Linked DNA regions of Homo sapiens. The main gene of each other region encodes a partner of the protein of the gene in region 3 in a complex. Each region holds a gene or a part of one and is shown on either strand. Other genes may lie near its edges.

What was found.
Region 1: TMEM231 (region 3) and AHI1 share a complex: the UniProt entries of both Homo sapiens proteins name them as parts of the tectonic-like complex.
Region 2: TMEM231 (region 3) and TMEM67 share a complex: the UniProt entries of both Homo sapiens proteins name them as parts of the tectonic-like complex.
Region 4: TMEM231 (region 3) and TMEM107 share a complex: the UniProt entries of both Homo sapiens proteins name them as parts of the tectonic-like complex.

The regions. Positions count from the first base shown.
Region 1 is NC_000006.12:135,284,726-135,291,760, reverse strand, and holds part of AHI1 (jouberin), read left to right. Parts: intron 1-1,235; coding exon 1,236-1,338; intron 1,339-6,113; coding exon 6,114-6,116; coding exon of another isoform or gene 6,117-6,135; 3' UTR 6,136-7,035. UniProt on the Homo sapiens protein: Involved in vesicle trafficking and required for ciliogenesis, formation of primary non-motile cilium, and recruitment of RAB8A to the basal body of primary cilium.
Region 2 is NC_000008.11:93,778,879-93,785,913, reverse strand, and holds part of TMEM67 (meckelin isoform 1 precursor), read right to left. Parts: intron 5,322-7,035; coding exon 5,167-5,321; intron 5,041-5,166; coding exon 4,932-5,040; intron 4,257-4,931; coding exon 4,170-4,256; intron 3,520-4,169; coding exon 3,454-3,519; intron 693-3,453; coding exon 536-692; intron 1-535. UniProt on the Homo sapiens protein: Required for ciliary structure and function. Part of the tectonic-like complex which is required for tissue-specific ciliogenesis and may regulate ciliary membrane composition.
Region 3 is NC_000016.10:75,536,228-75,539,274, reverse strand, and holds the end of TMEM231 (transmembrane protein 231), read left to right. Parts: 3' UTR 1-2,534; downstream 2,535-3,047. UniProt on the Homo sapiens protein: Transmembrane component of the tectonic-like complex, a complex localized at the transition zone of primary cilia and acting as a barrier that prevents diffusion of transmembrane proteins between the cilia and plasma membranes.
Region 4 is NC_000017.11:8,173,381-8,181,368, reverse strand, and holds the start of TMEM107 (transmembrane protein 107), read left to right. Parts: upstream 1-4,988; 5' UTR 4,989-5,082; coding exon 5,083-5,169; intron 5,170-5,342; coding exon 5,343-5,410; intron 5,411-5,493; coding exon of another isoform or gene 5,494-5,511; coding exon 5,512-5,612; intron 5,613-6,494; exon of another isoform or gene 6,495-6,593; intron 6,594-6,752; coding exon 6,753-6,849; intron 6,850-7,096; coding exon 7,097-7,166; 3' UTR 7,167-7,988. UniProt on the Homo sapiens protein: Plays a role in cilia formation and embryonic patterning. Requires for normal Sonic hedgehog (Shh) signaling in the neural tube and acts in combination with GLI2 and GLI3 to pattern ventral and intermediate neuronal cell types.

The DNA.
Region 1 (7,035 bases), on a different chromosome or scaffold from region 3:
ATTCTATCTAAATTTACTGTCCTTTCTTCTTTGTAATTTCTGACCTTTTCATTCTCAGTCATCTGACTTCATTTCACTTACTTACACATTTCTTCATTAGTCTATTCAGGGTGCCACAGAGAATACCACAGACTTCATTGCTTAAACTACAGAAACTTATTTTCACACAGTTCTGGGGGCTAGAAGTCCCAAGATCAAGGTGCCAGCAGGATTGGTTTCCCGTGAGGCCTCTCTTCCTGGCTTGGAGGTGGCTGCCTTCTTGTTGTGTCCTCACATGGCCTCTTCTCTGTGCAAAAAGAGCACGCTCTGGTTTCATCTTTCCATCTTCTAAGGACTCTAGTCTTATTAGATTAGAACCCCACTCTTCTGACCCCATTTAACCTTAGTTATCTCCCTAGAAGCCCCTGTCTCCAAATGCAGTTACATTAGGAGTTCAGGTGTCAACATGTGAATTTTGGGGAAATATCATTTGGTTCACAAGAATCTCTATTCAGTCCTATTTAATACCTGATTTTGAAATTCTTGTATCTTTTTCAAGCTCCTCTGTGGTGTTTCTCACCATTCCTAGACAACTTAGAAGATACTCTGTTCCATTCTTCAGTTTTCCTTTTTTTTTCATTGTTTTTGTGTTTTCTTTCTCCTAATATAAAGTGCATTACTACACACTCATCCACAAAACATTTGTTTTATATTTTGCTATTGCCATTGAATCATTTGGAAAGCTACATTGTTCATTCCACAGATCAGGATGTTACAGCTTTCTTATATATAAATTTCCTTCATTTCTTTTCTTGTCATGAATGAATGTCCTATACTTTTGTGTGTGTGTGTGTGTGTGTGTGTGTGTTTGTGTGTGTTTCCACCTAAGTTGATAGAACTTTCTGATTTTTCCCAGGCATCTAATATTTTTCTGAGACAGATGAAATTTATTTTATTCTGTAAGTCCACAGATAATTGTTTAAGATTTTGAAATTTATTTTATTCTTGTCCCTTTATCATGGCTAAGAAGGAGCCCAACCAGCCAAAGGTTTGTCTGTTAACGTTATTTTAAGCAATTCCTTGTCTCTCATCCCCGTGTATACTCATTAGTTCTGCCGGATGTTTTTCTCTGTCATATCCTCACATTTATCCCCATTTTTGTTTCCACTGCCACGGCCCTAGATCAAAGCCTCATCTGAGCTTTTAGCTCAGCTCTCTTTTACTGGCTCCTTGTTTCTGATCTTTCCCTCCTATAGTTCTGAAATGAGAAAAGAACAGAGCCATGAGGACCAAGGACACATAATGGATACACGGATGAGGAAGAACAAGCAAGCAGGCAGAAAAGTCACTCTAATAGAGGTAAGGGGAAAACCAATAGAAAGTTGCGCTATGTTGTCAACAGGAAAAGATTTAGGAAAGCATGGTCAGCAAGGACAAATACCAGAGAGAGGCAAGTAAAATAAGGACTGACAAGTCCCATTTGGGATCTGTAACCGGGAGGCCATTTGCGACCTTGGAGAAGATAGTTTTGATGGAGAAACCTGGAAGCATAAATCAGATTGTCTCCAGCCCAAAGGGAAAAAGACTGTAAGAATAGTCTTATTCTCTTTAGAAGCTGGAATTTAAAGGAAAGAAAAAGCTAGGCAGTAACTAGTGGAAAACACAGGGTATAGACAAGATCTTTATAAAGAGGGGAATGACAAGAATATTTACAAACTGAGAGGAAAGAGCCACTTGAGAAGGAGCCATCTGCGGTGTCGGAGCAGAGTGATAGTCCCTGGGGGCCTAAGGAACTCCAGAGGATTACAGCTCAAGAGTGGGCCACTTTTTCCACCGAGATACGCCAGTGGGAAAATGTGTTTGGATGGTAGGGGTTGGGGTATAGGGAAGGCCTGCCAGAAGGCCTTTTCTCTATTAAGTAGAAGTGAAGTTTCTGTTCAAGGTGAAATGTTACGAAGCTGTTCATGTCCACATTTATAAATTTGTCATTTTGTAGGAACTAGAGTCAAAATTTTCATATTTTTATTTTTCCATTGTAGAAAACTAAAATCTAATTGTACAGAAGCATATAGATGCATAGTTATGTAATCATGGGCTAAGGAATTATTTTTAACCTTGATACCAGAATTGGAAAACATTATAAAACAGATTCTTAAATAATGGAAACTTTAAAATTATGCAGGTCAAAAAGAAAAAAAGTCATAGAATTTTTAAATGAACAATAACCTGGGATGGAAGAGATTTACCCATGGAAGAGTAATACTCTTTTTTTTGTTGTTGTTGTTGTTTTGAGACGTCTTGCTCTGTCACCCAGCCTAGAATGCAGTGGTGCAATCTCAGCTCACTGCAGTCTCCACCTCCCGGGTTCAAGTGATTCTCCTGCCTCAGCCTCCCGAGTAGCTGGGACTACAGGCACGTGTCACCACACCCAGCTAATTTTTGTATTTTAATAGAGTCAGGGTTTTGCCATGTTTCCCAGGCTGGTCTTGAACTCCTGACCTCAAGCCATCCACCTGCCTCAGCCTCCCAAAGTGCTGGGATTACAGGCGTGAGCCACCGCACCTGGCCAGGAGTAATACCCTTAACAAATAAAAAGCTCTAAGAGGAGCTTTTTCAACAAGAAAAAAAATACACCAGTAGAAAAACGGGACAAAGATATACACAGGACATTCTTAAAGGATTCTTAAAGGGATAAATATAAATGGCAACAGACATATGAAAAATGTTTACCATCCATTGATCAAATTAATGAAAATTAAAACAATAAAATGAGATGGTATTTTACCCTTTCAAAATGACAAGTTTCAAACTTATGATACATACCTAGTATTGATGAGAAAATGGGATGTGGATTCCCGCTTACACTGCTGGTAATACTATAAGATTGATCCATTCTTTGTGAAGTATAATTAGGTAATATGTTAGGGTTTTTTTTTTGTTTTGTTTTGTTTTCAAAATGTGCATCTCTTTGACCTGACAGTTCAACTTCAAGGAATCTCTTATAGGAAAGTATTCAAGTATACATGGAGAGATTTAGTTAAAAGGCTACTCCTTCGAGCAGTGTTTTTAAAATAAAGGGTTGATTAAAATATGAAATATTTATATAACAGAATATCATATGGTTATTCATCATATTATGGAAGTATTTTTATGGACATGAAAAGATGTTTATGATTTTTAAGTAAAAAATGATTATAAAATAGTTTATATAATATACATCAAAAGACATGAATAATTATCTGAGTAGTAAGATTATGGTAATTTTTTTCTTCTATTTTAACTTTGTGCATTTTCTAATTTATCTACTTACTGTATATTTACTACTTGATCATTTCTTTCAAAATGAATGTAATTTTTAGAAATTTTCTAATACAGCGTGTTGTTTCTACATTTAAAGAAACCAAGGTTTCAAAGTTACAGCTACAAAGTACCTGAACTAGGAATTAATCTTCTTGCCCCAAGTTCAGGGCTGTTTCTCTTACACATTGCTTTGTATATTAACTCTGATTAGATGGCCAGTGCTTCCAGTCAGGGGCTATTATTTAATACATACTCACATTTTTTTCCTCCCCTGCACTTAGCCTGGTGTCTTGCCACAGAAGTAAACCTTCAGGAAAGATCTATTGGATTGAATGTCTTGTGGGGTAAGGTCCAGGTTTTTTTGTTGTGTTTTGTTTTTGTTTTTTTGAGAGGGAGTCTTGCTGTGTTGCCCAGGCTGGACTGCAATGGTGCGATCTTGGCTCACTGTAACCTCCACCTCCTGGATTCAAGTGATTCTCCTGCCTCAGCCTCCCGAGTAGCTGGGATTACAGGCACCCACCACCACACCTGGCTAATTTTTGTATTTTAGTAGAGATGGGGTTTCACCATGTTGGCCAGGCTGGTCTCAAACCCCTGACCTCAAGTGATCACCCGCCTCAGCCTCCCAAAATGCTGGGATGACAGGCATGAGCCACCATGCCCGGCCACGGCCCGGTATTTTTATGAATCTTATTCCCCAGACATAACATACACACAAACACTAACCTAGTTTCATACTTGTTTTCATAAGCTTGCTAAGAAGAATGTTTCTTTCTCTTTTCATCACAAGAGCCTTTAAAAAGGGCTTTGCTTCGTTACTTTCTTCCTCTGTTAGATTACAGAGATACTTTATGAGAAGATAGAGAAGGAATGGCTTTGCATTTATCCTTGTCTTTTGGTTAGATGTCTTCTCCTCCCTCTTTCAGCACATCCCTGCTGTCTCCTAGCTTTCAGGTCCTTTTGCTGTTAGCGTTCATCAAGCCAGTGTGCCACTCTTGATTTTCCTCCCATCGTCAGGAGGAGCCGCCAGTGTCCGAAGGGTGCACATGACCATCTTTATTCTGTCTCTTTTCTCCCTTTTATGCGCCATCTTTGTCATTCTCTATCCAGTGTGTTTCTTCCTCTTCTGAGTCTGAATCATTTCCCTCAAAGATGTTATCTTTGCTGCCTACTTTAGATTTTTCGAGTTGAATTTCTCTTTGGGTTCTTCTCCTGAAGGTCCGTCTGGCTTCTCTGTTTACTTCTCACAGTGCAGTCACCACCTGATTGATTTCACTTGTCCTACATCTTCTGCACGTGCAGGATCCATCTCACTAATTTCCAGCTGTTCTTCTCCCCTTCTCCCCCTTCCCTTTTCTGTTTTTCTTCTTCTTTTTTGTCCTCCCACTAACATGAACTCTTCCTCTCACTTTGTTTTGCCTTATTCTTCCTGTAAGATCCTTTACCCTCCTCACTGCCTTTTGCAGAAGTTTATATGTCTCTCTGTGACTTTAGCCCAGCCTTCATTGAAACTACTTTCTTTTCCATTTTTATCAGATCCTAATTTGGTGAAAGTTTTACGTACTTTTTCTGTATATGTACAGGGAGACTTTTTTTGCCCCTAGTGGTATTATACCTTGGCATGCCGTATTCTGTACCATTTTTATACTCAACTTCATGTGCATTCATGAGCTTCACTAGAACGTATTTTTGGGCTTCTATATATGATACAAGCTTACCTGGAGTAGCTCTGTTTAACAAATTTAAAATCAAGAAACATCAAGTGATAAAGAATTTTTGCCCCTCATGTGTAAATGTGTTTTATATGAAAAGATAGTGCGACCATTGATTTAAGATTGGGCCTGTTCCTTAAAGCACAGGTGTCCCCTACACCTCCTGTGCCCCCAGGGAAAGCCCTTCAGGAATGGTTAGCCATTGCCCTTTCTTGCCACAGTGTGCCAGCTGTCACTTTTCTCAGGAGTGGTCGATGGAGTTGACTGCTACCTTAACCAGATTTGCCATCGTTCTGAAACTGCCGTGTGTTTTCTAAGGACAACCAGGTGTTAAGCCTTTCTCTTTAGAAGAAGGACAGTAACCTTTCTGTGTAAGTCCAGAACTTATCAATGCTGTATGAATGATTGCATTAAAAAATGTTAGGTTTAGCCCCACTAATTTATCTCACACTAGTTGTAGTGCAAATACTACATGCTGTCTAAGGAAGCAACTTCTTGTTTCATCTGCATATTGGTTCTTGATTTTTATGAATTGTATAATTTGTTTTACATCAAAGCCACATCTGGATGCTTGATTGTTACTATCTTGGTCAAAAATGAGACAGCCCATTTTTTAATTGATTTGAAAAATGTAATAACCTAATTATATAAAAGTAGGCATAGCCATAGACTAAATGAAAGAATGCTATTTAATAAAATTATCTGTATCCTTCCGAATCACTAACCCTGAATATCATCCATGAGGACTTTTTTTCCCATTCAATGAAGAATTTCATATACTCTGATTGCCTGCTCTTCATTTCTGGAAGTTACTTATGGTTTGGAGTTTTTAGTGTCTATATTTGGGGATTTTATTTCTTTCTTGCTTACATTAACCTGTCAATGCAGGAGCAGGCCTTAAACAATTGCTAATGATACAAAAAGATGCTAACAATGTTTGAGAGGCAAACTAGAAGATAGGAAATTAGTATTTTGGTCTTTTTTAGTTGTGTTTGTATGTGTTTGTGTTTTACACAATGTCCTTTATTACCTGTGCTGTTGCCTGAGCACACTAAGATTTGGTTGTAGTCAGAAGACATTATTCAAGTTTATTTAGTACATTTTGTGTATTTTTCTTTCCAGTAAAGAATTGAAGAAAAGTTAAGAGCTGCCGAAATGCACAGAGGTGAAAATGACAAACCAAATGGAATTTCTCTTCAGAGTTCAGAATTTTCAGATACTAAGGAGGAAGAAAGGATCCACTACTTCTTGTTCTTATGAATGACTCTAGAAAAATCAGAATCAAGTTGTGGGTGGAAAAATCAACGTGGCCTTTGAGTTCAGTTGTTATAAACCATTGTGACTATTGTTGGTCAAAGTATTGGTACTTATATTGTTAGTAATTGCATCATAATTACATTACCAGTGTTGGAAAACTAATGAAGAAAACACTGTAATTGCTACTCAGCAAATGTGAATAAAAGGTGTTTGCGTTATTAGGATGTCTGTTAAGTAATCATTTAATATTATTATATTGGTAATGGTTGTATGTGTGATGCTATGCCCAGAATATGAAGTATCTGTTTTTGAAATTCACTTTATTTAAAAGATAAGCAGCTGACTGGGCACGGTGCCTCATGCCTGTAATCCTAGCACCTTGGGAGGCTGAGGCAGGTGGATCACCTAAGGTCAGGAGTTCAACAACACCAGCCTGACCAACATGGTGAAACCCCATCTCTACTAAAAATACAAAAATCAGCCGGGTCTCATGGCAGGCACCTGTAATCCCATCTACTGAGGCAGGAGAATTGCTTGACCCAGGAGGCAGAGGTTGCAGTGAGCCAAGATCACGCCATTGCACTCCAGCCTGGGGGACAGAGCAAGACTCTATCTCCAAAAAACAAAAAAGATAAGCAGCTTTAGAATATGGCGCATTCAAAACAGTCTCAGTAACAAAGACATTAAAAGAAAACAATTTACTTTCTAATTAAAATTTTGTGTTTCTTAAGATCAAATCATATAGGTAACTTCATAGACCTAAATTAAAAGTGATTTTTGGCTGGAC
Region 2 (7,035 bases), on a different chromosome or scaffold from region 3:
TTTGTAGCAACCAGTTCTAATTATGTTGCCTAGGTTGGTCTTCAATTTCTAGGCTCAAGCAATTCTCTCGTCTTGGCCTCCCAAAGTGCTGCGATTATAGGCGTGAGCCACCGTGCCTTGGACTTGAATGTCTTCTGATTGAACTTTTCATAAATTTGGAAGGCTTTCCCCTGCAAATTACCTGAAAAAGCAGAATTTTATAACATGAATAACAACAAAAGAAACTAATTTGTCCAAAAAAGCATATTCGGGACAGCTTGACGAAAAAGCCCCAATTTACGGTTCTACTAATGTTTCTCAGGATATACCCTCAGCAACAGTATAATTTCTTAACAATATGTCTGGCAATAAAATTAGCAACAGTTTCTAAGTCCACCAGCAATTTATTGTTTCATTTTTTGGCACACTGTATAGAACCACATAAGAGAGAATTCATGACCTTTCTTATAATCAGTGGTTTATTAAATTATCATGTAGGTTAACTTATTTGTTGATTTCTGCTCAGGGAAAAGAGTGGTATGTATGGATGTCTTACCTTGGTTCACAAATATCTTATTATGTTGAAGATTTAGGTTTAACACAGGCACAGCCAAAATATATTGATGTTGATTTTCATCAGTATATTCAAGGTACACATCATAAAATATAGGAGTGGGAAAGTCAATTAAGATCTTAGAGATAGGAATCTCACACTGAAAAGTAAAATTAAAAATAAAAGCACATAAAACAGCAACTTAAAGTACTAAAAAGTAAAAAATAAAATAAAAGATCACAATTGAAAATTAGCAAGCATATTTATTATCTTCAGAGTGTTTTTCTAGTTTTGCAAAATGTCTTTATACTACCTTGTTTATATGCATTTTCATTTGTCTTCCAAAACATGAATACTATGATTATTTTATAAGGACCAAAACCACTAACAGTAAAGTACTGCTTTGAGAATTTTGAGAACTTCTTGAGCTTCAACTCAGATGAAGGAGGTATACCTTCATTCTCAATATTAAGGGTACATCAGTGAAAAGGTTTAAAACTACTGTCCTACGGGATAAATTCCCAATTTTTTCTCCTGCTGTACAATGATGTATATGATCTGGCTTCCATTAACCAAGCCAGGCTTATCTCTCATTACTCCCTATCAGTCTATGGTGGTCCATTCATACTAATCTACTTGTAGTTTCTAAATATGCCATACTACTGTATGTCTCTCTGTCATTACAAATGTGATTTCTGTCTGATATTTCCTTCCCCACTGTGTTCTTCTGGAAAACTCATATTCATTATACAAATCCAAGTATCACTTACTTTGTGAAGCCTTTCTATACTTCCCCAGGAATCAGTACCTTGTACATACCTATAGAATGACACTTATCACATTCTTTGCAATTCTTTGTCTATATAACTGTTTTGCCCACTAGTCTATGAAGGACTTGAGAGTTAGCCAGGTTCAAAGAAATAAAAATGCTTTTTAAACCTGATGATAGAACATTGGCTCCACAGTTTATGTGACACAAGTCTTTGAGTAAATTACCTAATTACACGGCATAATTTCCTCATCTGTGAAGCACAGATACTATGTATCTCATATAGTTATTTTATGAATCAAATGGGATAATAACGATAAAATGCTGAGCACACAGATAGGCATTACATAAGTGTTGATCTTTCTGGCCTATGTTAGAAGCACAATAACATTTATTTTAACAACAACAGCAACAACAACGTGTAAATCATTTCTGACAAAAGAAGTAAATTCATGTTCATGGTAGAAAATTTGGAAATTATAAAAAAGAAAAAAATAATTTCTAACCCCACTATCCAGAGGTAACCACTGTTAGTAGATTCTTCCAATCTACTTTCCATAATGGTATTTTTTGTTATGGTTTTGTTCTATGGTTGTGCGTGGAACTTTATCAAGATGTACTTTTACAGACTAATGAATTGATATGGTTTGGCTGTGTCCCCACCCAAATCTCATCTTGAACTGTAGTTCCCATAATCCCCATGTGTCATGGGAAGGACCCGGAGGGAGGTAATTGAATCATAGGGGCAGTTACCCTCATGCTGTTCTCATGATAGTGAGTGAGTTCTCATGAGATTGATGGTTTTATGAGGGGCTTCTCCCCCTTTTGCTCAGTACTTCTCTTCCTGTCACCACGTGAAAAAGGACATGTTTGCTTCCCTTCCACCATGATTGTAAGTTTCCTGAGGCCTCCTCAGCCATAGTGAACTGTGAGTCAATTAAACCTATTTCCTTTGTAAATTACCCAGTCTCGGATGTGTTTTTATTAGCAGCGTGAGAACGGACTAATACATGCATGTTTTTCAAGTATTGAATGGCTCATAATATTCCTTAGTAAAATAATGTAATTTCAAAATAGGTATCAAAGTAAGGAAAGTCAGAGAAGGAAGGAGAAAGAAAAGAATGGAAGAAGATGAAGGAATTATTTTTATTTGTTATGAGCGGGTAGAAGAAGGGAGTAACTTTTTATTAGTCATTTAAAAAAAGTAGTATTTTTACTTTATTTCAAAATGCTCAGAAGTAAGCATTACTTTTTAAGACCTATAAGCCTAGAAGCAGATAAACAATTTATTATGAAGATGTAATATTATATGATGTTTAAGACTCTAGGCCGGACGAGGTGGCTCACACCTGTAATCCCAGCACTTTGGGAGGCCAAGGCTGGTGGATCAGTTGAGGTCAGGAGTTTGAGACAAGCGTGGTCAACACAGCAAAACCCCATCTCTATGCAAAACACAAGAATTAGCTGGGTGTGGTGGTACATGCCTGTTGTCCCAGCTACTCAGGTGGTTGAGGCACGAGAATTGCTTGAACCCAGGAGGCAAGAGATTGCAGTGAGCTGAGATTGCACCACTGCACTCCAGCCTGGGCAACAGAGCGAGACTCTGTCTCAAAAAACAAAAAACTCTATAGATAACAAGGTGCTCTGTTTATGCCACTTAAATTAAGCTTTTATGTACCCAGGTAATAAAAAATTATATTAAATAGTGAAATTATTCTTCACTATTAAAAACATTTCCGGCCAGGCACGGTGGCTCATGCCTGTAATCTCAGCACTTCGGGAGGCTGAGGAGGGCAGATCATCTGAGGTGGGGAGTTCAAGATCAGCCTGATCAACATGGAGAAACCCTGTCTTTACTAAAAATACAAAAAATTAGCTGGGCGTGGTGGCACATGTCTGTAATTCCAGCTACTCGGGAGGCTGAGGCAGGAGAATCACTTGAACCTGGGAGGCGGAGGTTGTGGTGAACTGAGATTGCACCACTGCACTCCAGCCTGGGCAACAAGAGCAAAACTCCATCTCAAAAAAAAAAAAAAAAAAACCAAGAATAAAAAATTTCCAATCTCAAAAATTTAAGTATTATTCCAATTACTGCTGACATGATATTTTGAAAAATAAAGCTAAAATATAGACTAATATCGTTCAAACTTACATTTTGTTGGTAGGTTGTTCCAAATGAATAAGCAGCATTTAGCCTTGTCTCTGTGTCTGGACAAAGCTGCAGCAAAATAATACAACAGATAAATCTCACAAATGTTTTCTATTCTTATACTCAAGAGTTCTCAAACCCGAACATGGATATATGCTCTACATAATACTTATTTAATGTATCAAGGATATGAAAAGTTAAGGGAACATCTGTTATAAATGAAAGTCATAACTTTAAAGAAATAAAACTTAGCCAGGCATGGTGGCTCATGCCTGCAATCCCAGCGCTTTGGGAGGCCAAGAAGGGCGGATCACGAGGTCAGGAGATCAAGACCATCCTGGCTAACATGGTGAAATCCCGTCTCTACTAAAAGTACATAAAAATTAGCTGGACGTGGTGGCAGTCGCCTGTAGTTCCAGCTCCCAGCTGAAGCAGGAGAATGGCGTGAACCCGCAAGGCGGAGCTTGTAGTGAGCTGAGATCGCGCCACTGCACTCCAGCCTGGTTAAGAAAGCGAGACTCCATCTCAAAAAAAAAAGAAAAAACAAACAAACAAACAAACAAACAAAAAACTTAAGAAAGTCTAATTTAAAGCATCAGAAAAAAAATCAACTGTAGTATGTAACTGATGCTTTATTCATACAATAATCTTTTCCTCTTGGCTTTGTCTCAGGCAAAAATAATGCATGTTATTAATTCTTTAACTAGAATCATGCTTACCTGTAAAACACCTCCTTCTAAAGTTTGCCACTTGAGAAAATTTCCTCTTATATCATAGGAAGCAGCAACAAACTTCAGTTTTGTATTCTGATTAAAGAAAACGAGCAAAATCAGGTCAAATACTCTGAAAGTAATACAATATCCTATAAAGAAATTTTCATTGTTGACTGATCTTTTTTGTTGAAAAATTACATTCAATTATCTTTATTTTGAGGTTCAATTAATCTATTTCTATGACTAAATAGACCTGAAAGAATTAGACTGGTTTTTTGCATGAAAATTATTATTCTAGAATTGAGAGGCAGCACTAGTGACAGATAGCCTCCTTTTGAACCTGTTAAATAGGAGGCAGTGTGGGAGAATAGTATCTCCTCATTCTGGAAGGTCAAAAAGTTACAGGTAGGAATTTGGCCCTGTGAAGTGCTGAGCAATGTCACAGAGCCCCAATCAATCTTTGGAAGCACTTCTTTAAGGTGTGGAAAAAACAGGACAGAGATTTTTTGCATTTGGTGATGAAAACTGCTCTTCCCAACCCTACAAGTACAACTTCTTGCCATAACCACACAATCCAGAAGTATCCACATATTCAGTAAGATAGCTAAACTCTATACTATTTAGTTCTTATGAGTTGTTGACATTTATATTTAGTTTAGTAACTGAGTTTGTACCAACAACCTAAAAAGGCAAGAATTGTAACTTTATTACCTTTTAAAATTATAAATCAAAATGTAGTTATCCTCTAATGATATTAGACACTTTTACCTGGTTTTCTCCTTTAAAACTGAAATTTGTAGGAAGAGAGGTAGAACTGAGCACTTGAGGTGCTAATCCTAACTGGTCTCCATAAAACAGCCAAGGAAGATTCTGTCTCCTATAAACAGTTACAACTGTTTTAATAATGGAGAATAAATATTTCTTATTATTAGTATTTGTGAATATATTAATAACTGCACTGAATTCAGTCAAAATAACATTTCATCAATCAAAATATCCTTACCAAAATGAAATAGAATGAACAGTGCTCAGTCCAGCAGTATTTTCAAAGATAAACTGAAATAGTCCACATGCATCAAATGTGGCAAAGTCGTAAGAATTCATGTTCATCACACACATATTTCCAAGAGCTTGACAAGATGTTAGATTGGCATATACCTACAACAGAACAATGGCAAAGAAAAGTAACATGAACCTGAACAGTCTATGCAAAAGTTGATATAAAAATTTTACTTTGTGCAGGTCTGTTCCAAGATGGCCGAGTAGGAACAGCTCCGGTCTGCAGCTCCCAGCATAATCAACGCAGAAGGCAGGTGATTTCTGCATTTCCAACTGAGATACCTGGTTCATCTCATTGGGACTGGTTGGACAGTGGGTGCAGCCCATGGAGGGCAAGCTGAAGCAGGGTGGGGCATCACCTCACCCAGGAAGCGCAAGGGGTTGGGGGATTTCCCTTTCCTAGCCAAGGGAAGCCGTGACAGACTGTACCTGGAAAAATGGGACACCTCCACCTAAACACTGCGCTTTTCCAATGGTCTTAGCAAACGGCACACCAGATTACATCCCACGCCTGGCTCGGTGGGTCCCACGCCTACAGAGCCTTGCTCACTGCTAGCACAGCTGAGATCAACCTGCCAGGCAGCAGGCTGGCAGGGGGAGGGGTGTCTGCCATTGCTGAGGCTTGAGTAGGAAAACAAAGCAGCCGGGGAAGCTCCAACTGGGTGGAGCCCACCGCAGTTCAGCAAGGCCTGCTGCCTCTGTTGACTCCACCTCTGGCAGCAGGGCATAGCTGAACAAAAGGCACCAGAAACTTCTGCAGAGTTAAACATCCCTGTCTGACAGCTCTGAAGAGAGCAGTGGTTCTCCCAGCACAGCGTTTGAGCTCAGAGAATGGATAGACTGCCTCCTCAAGTGGATCCCTGACCCTGTGTAGCCTAACTGGGAGACACCTCCCAGTAGGGGCCGACAGACACCTCATACAGGTGGGCGCCCCTCTGGGACGAAGCTTCCAGAGGAAGGATCAGGCAGCAATATTTGCTGTTCTACAACCTCCGCTGGTAATATCCAGGAAAACAGCGTCTGGAGTGGACCTCTAGCAAACTCCAACAGACCTGCAGCTGAGGGACCTGTTAGAAGGAAAACTAACAAATAGAAAGGAATAGCATCAACATCAACAAAAAGGACATCCACATCAAAACCCCATCCACATCAAAACCCCATCTGTAGGTCACCAACATCAAAGACCAAAGGTAGGTAAAACCATAAAGATGGGGAGAAACCAGAGCAGAAAAGCTGAAAATTCTAAAAACCAGAGTGCCTCCTCTCTTCCAAAGGAATGCAGCTCCTCACCAGCAACAGAACAAAGCTGGATGGAGAATGACTTTGACAAACTGACAGAAGTACGCTTCAGAAGGTCGGTAATAACAAACTTCTCTGAGCTAAAGGAGGATGTTCGAACCCGTCGGAAGGAAGCTAAAAACCTTGAAAAAAGATTAGACAAATGGCTAACTAGAATAAACAGTGTAGAGAAGACCTTAAATGACCTGATGGAGCTAAAAGACATGGCACAAGAACTATGTGATGCATGCACAAGCTTCAGTAGCCGATTTGGTCAAGTGGAAGAAAGGGTATCAGTAATTGAAGATCAAATTAATGAAATAAAGCGAGACGACAAGGTTAGAGAAAAAAGACTAAAAAGAAATGAGCAAAGCCTCCAAGAAATATGGGACTATGTGAAAAGACCAAATCTATGTTTGATTGGTGTACCTGAAAGTGATGGGGAAAATGGAACCAAGTTGGAAGACACTCTTCAGGATATTATCCAGGAGAACTTCCCCAACCTAGCAAGGCAGGCCAACATTCAAATTCAGGA
Region 3 (3,047 bases):
CAGGCTGAAGTCAGAGGGGCTGTTTCATTCTCAGCCCCCTCAGCAGCACTGGGGGAAGAAAGCATTGTCACAACAGGTTCTTTCTGGCCCTCACCCAACAGCCTGGGCACTTGGCCCTCCTCCTCCTTGACAGCCCTCCCCCTTCCTGCAAAGGACAGGGGCGACAGGGGTTGGTGTTGGGATTGGCTCCCGCTGCCTGACAACCACAAGTTTATTTGGAAGGCTAGCGGGAAGCCCAGCGGCTGGCGTTTCCCTTGACTAAGGAACAGGGTGCCCATCAGAGTGGGGCGGGCAGCTTTGGGAAGGACACAAGAAGCAGTAAGAGTGTAAAGAGGATGCTGGCCTGGGCAGGCCAGTCCAGCCTGGCCACTAGCAGAATACCAAGCAGTCCAGTGGATTACCCTCGTGGCTAAGCAAGTGTCTGCAGGAGCAGAGATGGCTGGAAGGGGCCTCTGCACACGGAAGATGGCTTGTTCAGCCCATTCACCTCCTGAGGATGTGGGCAGTCTCCTCCAAGAACACATGGAGCTGCTTCCTGATCCCAAGCAGGTCATTGCCACTGGAAGGACATGGCCCCGGTGATCCATGCTTCATGCCCACCCAGAAACACACCCCTCAGTGTGTGCCTCAGTTTACTTTGGAGATCAGTTGTCGTTTTTAGTGCTCCTTTAGGCTTACTAAAACAGTTTTGGAAACAAAGCTATTTTGAAGTATTCAAGCAGAGGAATTCCCTAACACTGACCCCCTTGTCTTTTTTTAATATTCAGGCTGTTTTATATGCCTAAATTTTTTTCTTAAGATCTAAACGAAAAATAGTTTCTTGTTTAAATTCACATAAGGCAATGAGATATGGAAAGATGACAAGATACGTATAAACATTGGTTTGCATTTTATTAAATTATTCTAATGCAAATCTTGTATAAAGAACCCATGATGTTTTGTAACTTTCTAATTAAAATGTTCAAAATGAGGCCGAGCATGGTGGTTCATTCCTGTAATCTCAACACTTTGGGAGGCCAAGGTGGGAGGATCACTTGAGCCCAGGAGCTTGAGGCTGCAGTGTGCTATGATTGCACCACTGTACTGTAGCCTGGGTGACAGAGTGAGACCCTATCTGTTAAAATAAATAAATAAATAAATAAAAAAGTCAAAATGGAAGATCACATGTACCTTTTTCGAGGGAAAGGGTTTGGAATGGCAAAGAATAGGGAGGGCAGAGGTTGCACACACCTGTCTTTATTACTCATCTACAGCCATGCTTTACAAGGCTCTGCCTAACGACCTTGGAACTTCCATGAGGTCTTTGGTGAAAGTCCCCTAGTTCTTCCCCAGGTAGATGAGTTTTCAGTGGGATTCACATGCCATGTGAAATCTACGTGTTGGATAATTATGACTGTGTCTGGTGAATATGAAATTATTTACAGACCAGATGTTGATAGTTTCTGACTCTGAATCACAGCATAGCTGCAAGAGGTAAATAAAAAGCAAGAGGCCGGGAGCGGTGGCTCACGCCTGTAATCCCAGCACTTTGGGAGGCCGAGGTGGGTGAATCACAAGGTCAGGAGATCGAGACCATCCTGGCCAACATGGTGAAACCCCATCTCCACTAAAAATACAAAAATTGGCTGGGTGTGGCGACACGTGCCTGTCATCCCAACTATTTAGTAGGCTGAGGCAGGAGAATCGCTTGAACCCTGGAGGCGGAGGTTGCAGTGAGCCGAGATTGCGCCACTGCACTCCAGCCTGGCAACAGAGCTAGACTCCGTCTCAAAAAAAAAAAAAAAAAGAAATATAGAGGATTTTATTAACTCAGCTCCGACCCATAGCTAAGTTAAGGTTTGATGTTATTACTGAATATTTGGAGGCAGAAAGACTCCTGATTTTGCCAAATGATTAGTACAGTTTCGGCTTAAGTCAGATGAGGCCCCCCTAATATTCCATCATGTAAGGCTAATAAAGCAATTATTTCTTTTTTTTTTTTCCTTCCAACTTTTATTGTAGACTCATGGGGTATATGTATGGGTTTCGTATATAGCTAAATTGTACAACCTGGGGGTTTGGTGTACAGATTATTTCATCACCCACGTAATAAGCATAGTACCCAGTAGGTGGTTTTTCTTTTCTTTTTCTTTTTCTTTTTTTTTTTTTTTTTTGAGACAGAGTCTCACTCTGTTACCCAGGCTGGAGTGCAGCAGCATGATCTCAGCTCATTGCAGCCTCTACCTCCCAGGTTCAAGTGATTCTCCTGCCTTACCCTCCCGAGTAGCTGGGATTACGGGTGCCCACCACCATGCCCGGCTAATTTTTGTGTTTTTAGTAGAGACAGGGCTTCACCCTGGTGGTCAGGCTGGTCTCGAACTCCTGACCTCAAGTGATCCATCCGCTTTGGCCACCCAAAGTGCTGGGATCACAGCAGTTTGATCACAGAAGTTATTATGGTTGGCATTCTGGCACACATCTTTCTAATCTTTTTTGTTGTATGTAACCTTTTTAGTATCACAAACAACACTTTTATAAACCTTGTGTAGAAATCATTGTTGCTGGTTTATTTCCTTAAGATACATTCAGAAAACTTATGACCATTGTTAAGGATCTTAATTCATTGCCAAACCACAGCCAGGAAAGACTGCTAATTTCTACTCCCAGCAGCAGGGACTCCTCGTTTCAGATACCACCATGGATTAAAGGACCTCCCAATGCTCTATCCTTTTCAGATTACTGGACTCTGCCCGTTTGTTTCTTTGTTTTTGAGATGGAGTCTCGCTTTGTCACCCAGTCTGGAGTGCAATGGCCCCATCTCCGCTCACTGCAGCCTCCACCTCCGGGGTTCAAGCTATTCTCCTGTCTCAGCCTACCTAGTAGCTGGGATTACAGGCATGTGCTACCATGCGCGGCTAAATTTTGTATTTTCAGTAGAGATGGGGTTTTGCCACGTTGACCAGGCTGGTCTTGAACTCCTGACCTCAAGTGATCTGCCTGCCTTGCCTCCCAAAGTGCCGGGATTACAGTCATATGCCACCAGGCCAGGCTGAGCTGTTATTTGTAAG
Region 4 (7,988 bases), on a different chromosome or scaffold from region 3:
AGAATATAAATAAAAATAAAATTTGCTTAAAATCCATTATCCATGTTGCAACTAGAGTCATCATCTAGAACACCAACCTGACCATGTCCCTCCCTGTAGCTGCAAGGCCTGGCTTCATCTGGCCCCTGTTTACCTAACGAACCTCACACTGAACTTTTCTTCCCCTTCCATCACTAGGTTTCTGAAATGCTGCCTTCCTTACTGTTCAACAAACACACTTGGCTTGTTCTCACCATCTTTGCACTTGCTATGTCCTCTGTCTGGAATGCTCTTTCCCTAGATGTTCATGTAGCTGACTCTTTCACTTCCTTCTATTCAGAGACCTTGGAAAACCTTGCAAAAGCAGGTCCTGGATTTTCCTCACTTTTGGCCTATGACAACTTCTTTCATCTGTGAACAGTTATATTTGATGAATCTCTCACTGGGGGAGCTCACCTCTGAAGGTCTAGGTCGAAAATGCATGTAAGTTGCAGACAGAGGGAAGAAAAGCATGGAGAGTTCGTCAGTCTTTTTTTTTTTTTTTTTTTTTTTTTGAGACAGGTCTCACTCCTGGCACTCAGGCTGCAGTGCAGTGGTGTGATCATGGCTCACTGCAGCCTCCACTTCCTGGGTGCAGGTGAACCTCCCACCTCAGCCTCCCAAGCAGCTGGAACTACAGGTGTGCACCACTATGTTTGGCTAATTTTTTGTATTGTTTTGTAGAGACGGGGTTTTGCCATGTCGCCCAGGCTGAACCTTCAGTCTTTTTATCTTGTCTCCTAAGAACGTTTGAATGCTTGCTATGCTGTAATTTCTGCATTGGAGAATACAGGAAGCTCATCTCTCATTGTAAATTAGGTGTCATTACTATCACTCATTTTAGGAATCAAATGCAATGGGGGTCATTTCAAAGGAGAAAACTTAATGGGTTTCCTTGTCCATCCTGAGAGCAGGGAGGTTTGAAACTATCTTCAGAACTTTGAAGGGGTCCAACAGTTAAGAAAAGAACTGGCCGGGCGTGGCGGCTCACGCCTGTAATCCCAGCGCTTTGGGAGGCCGAGGCGGGTGGATCACCTGAAGTCAGGAGTCAGAAGTTCGAGAACAGCCGGGCCAACATGGTGAAACCCCGTCTCTACTAAAAATACAAAAATTAGCTGGGCATGGTCGCGGGTACCTGTAATCTCAGCTACTAGGGAGGCTGAGGCAGGAGCATCACCCCAACCCACAAGGCGGCAGTTGCAGTGAGCCGAGATTATGCCATTGCACTCCAGCCTGGGCGACAAAGGTGAAAACTCTGTCTCAAAAAAAAAAAAAAAAAAAAAAAAGGGAGGGGGGTGCCGGGTACGGTGGCTCACGCCTGTAATCCCAACACTTTGGGTGCCGGGAGACTGAGGCGGGCAGATCACGAGGTCAAGAGATGGAGACCATCCTGGCCAACACGGTGAAACGCGGTCTCTATTAAAAATACAAAAATTAGCTGGGCATGGTGGCGTGCGTCTGTAGTCCCAGCTATTCCGGAGGCTGAGACAGCAGGATCACCTGAGCCAGGGAGGTCGAGGGTCACTGTAGTCATGATCATACCCCTGCACTCCATCCTGAGTGACAGAGCAAGACCCTGCCTAAAAAAAACAAAGAGAGACTTTGTTGAACCTCCTTTAAAAAAATAATAATAATAATAATAGTAACTCCTCAGTAAAGTTTAGAAAATCACAAGCTTTTATTTCATGGGGATAAAAGCAAGTTTTGGTGATTACATTGTCTCCAATATGAAGAAAAGGCTGTGCTGTCTTTTAAAGAGATGGTTTATATGAAAATGTCATTACATAGTTTCAATATATAGGAGTTCAACATTTTAGGGACCCTCAATCCTATAAATCATTCCATTTTTTTTCCAATTTCTTGTCTTAATAATACAATATAAGACTCCGAAAACATTAATGTTTATTGTTTAAAACTTTTTTTTTAAGACGGAATCTCATTCTGTCACCCAGAGTGGAGTGCAGTGGTGTGATCTCAGCTCACTGCAATCTCCACCTCGTGGGTTCAAGAGATTCTCCTGCCTCAGCCTCCCGAGTAGCTGGGACTACAGGAGCGTGCCACGATGCCTGGCTAATTTTTGTATTTTTAGTAGAGACGGGGTTTCTCCATGTTGGCCAGGCTGGCCTTGAACTCCTGACCTCAGATGATCCACCCGCCTCGGCTTCCCAAAGTGCTGGGATTACAGGCGTGAGCCACCGCGCCCGGCCTAAAACTTTATTAAAAAGATATCTATGTATGTATATATGTGTGTGTGTGTGTATATATATATATATATATATATATTTTTTTTTTTTTTTTTTTTGAGTTGGAGTCTTGCTCTGTTGTCCAGGCTGGAGTGCAGTGGCGCAATCTCGGCTCATTGTAACATCCGCCTCCCGGGTTCAAGCGATTCTCCTGCCCCAGCCTCCCGAGTAGCTGGGAATACAGGTGTGTGCCACCATGCCCGGCTAATTTTTTTTTTTTTTTTTTTTTTTGTATTTTTAAATAGAGACGGGGTTTCATCATGTTTGTCAGGCTGGTCTCAAACTCCTGACCTCAGGGGATCCGCCCGCTTCGGCCTCCCAAAGTTCTGGGATTACAAGCGTAAGCCACCATTCCCGGCCTTTATTATTGTTTTAACAGAGAGAGGTGTCTCACTATGTTGCTCAGACTGGCTTCAAAGTCTTGGGTTCAAGGAATACTTCGCCTTGGCCTCCCAAAGTGCTGGGATTACAGGCATGGGCTTTTGCTTCTGGTCCCAGAGTGCATTTTCTTTTTATTTCTTTTCTTTTTTTTTGAGACGAAGTCTTGGTCTGTTTCCCAGGCGGGAGTGCAGTGGCACGATCTTGGATCACTGCAACCTCTGCCTCCCGGGTTCAAGCACTTCTCCTCCCTCAGCCTCTGGAATAGCTGGGATTAGAGGCGGGCGCCACCACACCTGGCTAACTTTTTAACTTTTTTTTTTTTTTTTTTTTCAGTAGAGATGAGGTTTCACCATGTTGGCCAGGCCGGTCTGAAACTCCTGACCTCAGGTGATCTCCCTGCCTCGGTCTCCCAAAGTGCTGGGATTACATGCCTGAGCCACCGCTCCCGGCCAATTTTTGGCCAAAGTTTCTAAAATAAAGTTTAAGGTTAAATGTCCGGCTGGGCGCGGTGGCTCATGCCTGTAATCCCAGCACTTTGCAAGGCCGAGGCTGGCGGATCACGAGGGCAGGAGATCGAGACCATCCTGGCTAACACAGTGAAACTCCGTCTCTCCTAAAAACACAAAAAATTAGCCGGGCATGGTGGCGAGCGCCTGTAGTCCCAGCTACTCAGGAGGCTGAGACGGGAGAATGGCGTGAACCCGGGAGGCCGAGCTTGCAGTGAGCCGAAATTGCGCCACTGCACTCCAGCCTGGGAGACAGAGCGAGACTCCGTCTCAGAAAAAGTAAATAAATAAAATAAAACAAAATAAATGCTCTATTTTAATAGAATTATAAATGCCCTATTTTTATAGAATTATAATTCTAGCGTTTCTTTTTTTTTTGGAGACGGAGTTGCGCTCTTGTTGCAGAGGCTGGAGTGCAATGGCGCGATCTCGGCTCACTGCAACCTCCACCTCCTGGGTTCAAGCGATTCCCATGCCTCAGCCTCCCGAATAGCTGGGATTACAGGCACGCGCCACCACGCCCGGCTAATTTTGTATTTTTAGTGGAGACAGGGTTTCAGCATGTTGGTCAGTCTGGTCTCGAGCTCCTGACCTCAGGTGATCCGCCCTCCTAGGCCTCCTAAAGCGCTGGGATTACAGGTGTGAGCCACAGTGCACAGCCCGCTTTTCCCTGTTTGTAGCGCCTATTATCTTACGGATTTATTTGTTTGCATGTCTGTTGTTGATCTCCCTGACTAGAATACCCTTACTAGGTAATCAATAAACATATACAAATATTTGTTGAAGGAATGAGAAATGCCTCTTGGGCTTGTAGTTTAGGCTGGCTAAAAGCACTGAGATGGGGAGTGGGGAGTAGGAAGAGATTGTTCTCCTGGGAGATGGGCCGGGAGGTTCCTTGAGGATGGGACTTGACTCAGCAATTAAAGAACTTTCAGATCTGCAGGGACCTGCGCTGAGGCCCAAAGGTCATGAGGTCGCCGATGATAAGAGCTTCTTGGACTGTAGCTGGGCAATGTCGGAGGCCCAGCACCTCCAAGGGACAAAGAAATCTGAGTTGAGTTTCCCTTCCAGCCGGCTCCAAGCCTCCCAGAGACGCAGGGACTGTCCCATTCCCTTCGTCCACTCCCACTCTTTCCAGCCACCTTGCTCTGCTCTTATCCCCATGCTAGTTTAAGGACGCTGGCCATTTTTTGCACTCTGCAAATCCCTCACCAAACTGAGCAAAGTAGTCTGAAAGAAATCAGTCTTCCTCAAGGAAGGTTCAGGCCTGGGGTCCTCAGACAACCAGGGGCTCCGTGACAATCTGTGACTGCAGAGCAGTCCAGGAACACCGGCCTCTCCAGGTTCGGGTCCCTTGTTTCTCAGGCCCAGCTTGGTGGGAAGCTAAAGGCATGCAGAGGAGGGGAAGGGGAGCGGGTCTGAGTCTTCGGCATGGCGGGGAACTCAGCCCGGCGTGGTGGTGGCAGCGGTCTCAAGTGATCCACAACTGGGCAGCGTAGCTGGGGCTGGGGGCCGCTCCCGGCGTGGGCAACAGCAGAAGCATTGGTGTCCCCAAGCTAGGCCAGGGTGGGTTTCCGTTCATCCGCCCTGCGTGGGCAGATCGGGCGCTGCGGGGCTGTGCCACCTCGCACCCTCTGAGGAACAAAGGGCCTGGCTGCGCGCGGGTACCCAGCCGTTAGGTTAGAAGCGCCTTCGGGTACCCCTGACCTTCGCTGGCCCTGAGAGACCCGCAGCAGCCGGAGAATGTACTGCTCGCGAGGATTTCCGAGAACGCGGCGCCGAGCCCGCGTACACGGTTACCAAGGCAACTGGGCGGTGCCTGAGCGGGCGGGAAGGAGGCGTTCGTCTAGATTTGTCGGCTTGCGGGGAGACTTCAGGAGTCGCTGTCTCTGAACTTCCAGCCTCAGAGACCGCCGCCCTTGTCCCCGAGGGCCATGGGCCGGGTCTCAGGGCTTGTGCCCTCTCGCTTCCTGACGCTCCTGGCGCATCTGGTGGTCGTCATCACCTTATTCTGGTCCCGGGTAAGACCCACGGCTGCACTCAATCCGTCCCCATTCCCATCTCTGAGTGGTCCTAGTCCTACCCTGCCCCCTCCCAGTGTCTTACCCTCTTGGGTTTTCTTGTTTCCCGCCGCCCCCAGGCCTGCCCTGCAGCCTGCCCCTTTTTCACTTCTCTTCCTGTGCCCTGCTCCCAGGACAGCAACATACAGGCCTGCCTGCCTCTCACGTTCACCCCCGAGGAGTATGACAAGCAGGACATTCAGTGAGCTCTTGGGACGGGGTGGCCAGAACGAAGAGGTGGTGGGAGTGGAGGGGTCTTAGAATAAGTCCAAAGGCCTGGGCCAGTCCACTTCCTCTCTGCAGGCTGGTGGCCGCGCTCTCTGTCACCCTGGGCCTCTTTGCAGTGGAGCTGGCCGGTTTCCTCTCAGGAGTCTCCATGTTCAACAGCACCCAGAGCCTCATCTGTATCCTTTCTGCCTGCCCACCTTTCCCACACGACCCACTTCTATCAGGACTCCCTTCAGCCACCTGACACAATAGTGTCTGCTGTAGCCAATCCTTCCAGTTCAAAGATCTTCAACGATGTGCTAAATCCTGCTGTTTACTAGGCACTTAAAATCCCAAAATGAGAGTAAAATACAGTTTTTGGCCAGGCATGTTGGCTCACGTCTGTAATCCCAGCACTGTGGGAGGCGCAGGCAGGAGGCAACATAGTGAGAACCCAAGTCTACAAAAATAATAGGAATAATAAAAACCCCACCGTTTCTTTTTACAATGAGGAGGAGGTAGATACAAATCTGTAATTCAGTGTGATAAGCACTGTGCTATAGAAGTGTGTGAAGATAGAAAGCACAGGCAGGGCGCGATGGCTCACGCATGTAATCCCAGCACTTTGGGAGGCCGAGGCAGGTGGACCACCTGAGGTCAGGAGTTCGAGACCGGCCTGACCAACATGGTGAAACCCCCGTCTCTACTAAAAATACAAAAATTAGTCGGGCGTGGCGGCGCACTCCTGTAATCCCAGCTACTCAGGAGACTGAGGAAGGAGAATTGCTTGAACCCGGGAGGCAGAGGTTGCAGTGAGCTGAGATCGTGCCACTGCACTCCAGCCAGGGCAACAGAGCAAGACTCTGTCAAAAAACAAACAAAAGATATAAAGCACAATGGGAACTCAGAAGAGGCAACGGAAGCGAGCACTGGGAACTCAGAAGAGGCAAAGGAGATGAGGCACATGGGTCAGAGAATTGTGGACCAGGAGGACCAGGACACTGGAGGCTGATTCCAGCGCATATTAAGTCGCTGTCAGCACTCCTTTGTGGCATAGCAGAAGGAGAGCCTACTCTTACCTCTCATCTGAAGGATCCAGGCTGGCCCACAGATAAGGGGTAGGGTAGCCTGAGGTCCGATCTGTGCAGTCACTTCTGGTCTCTCCTCACATGACTGTCCTAAAATTCAGAAGTCAGAGCTGCTGACTCTAGCCCTTGAAACATGGTGAGGGAGCAAGGGATGAACCTGAATGCAGATGCCAGCCCCACCACTGGCCTTTTCTGACCCATCACTGTCTGTCGATCCAAAGACTTTCCTTAATCTCGTGCCTTCCCAAGCCATTGGGGCTCACTGTAGTGCATCCGTGGCCCTGTCCTTCTTCATATTCGAGCGTTGGGAGTGCACTACGTATTGGTACATTTTTGTCTTCTGCAGGTGTGGTAGCATCCAATATTTGGGGATGAGGGAGGAAGGTTGGCCCTAAACCTGAAGGTTTTTCCCCTACCCAGCCCTTTCCTCCATGTGTGAGATACCAGATCCACTCAACATCCTGTAGGCTTTTAAAGTTTCATCCCCTACCCCCCATGCCACCTGCCCTACACTTTCAGAGGTGGGGTCTCTGGTTTGGAGATTTGGGTATTTATACTGAAAGGGTTTCTGAATCTACCACTTGCCTTGGTAGTGCCCTTCCAGCTGTCACTGAAATGGCTTTATTCGTCACCGTCTTTGGGCTGAAAAAGAAACCCTTCTGATTACCTTCATGACGGGAACCTAAGGACGAAGCCTACAGGGGCAAGGGCCGCTTCGTATTCCTGGAAGAAGGAAGGCATAGGCTTCGGTTTTCCCCTCGGAAACTGCTTCTGCTGGAGGATATGTGTTGGAATAATTACGTCTTGAGTCTGGGATTATCCGCATTGTATTTAGTGCTTTGTAATAAAATATGTTTTGTAGTAACATTAAGACTTATATACAGTTTTAGGGGACAATTGAGATGGCTGAACTACTGAATAAAAAAAAAACAACGCTGTTTTCTAGTCCTGCAGACCGTAAGATACTTGGTATCGCTTCTATTTTGGTTACTACGGTAGGTGCCTGGCGGAAGGGAGTGGGCGGAGATATGTAAATAGAAAGTGCGTACAGTTAGAACGTCCGGCACGTAACTGATCGGAGCATTCTGGGAAGAAGTAATTTATTCCTTTTCGGCAGCCGAATGAAAAAAAAATTTAAAAAAATGTGCGAGCTAATATGGCAAAACAACTGGAAGGACGCTAAATAATAGGATTGCTCATACCAGCGCGTTATGAACTCACCCTAGCTTGTAACGGAATCTTTTTCACTGAGTGCAGAATGTCGGCTGTTTGTCTGTATCGTCAGGTGGGATAATCCTTACCTGTTCCTCCTCCGGAGGGCAGATTAGAACATGATGATTGGAGATGCATGAAACGTGATTAACGTCTCTGCGTAATCAGGACTTGCAACACCCTGATTGCTCCTGTCTGATTCTTTCTGACGATCACTTACATTTGTGTTATGCTGATTAGCAGATATCCACAAACATAGCTATGAAGTTCTGA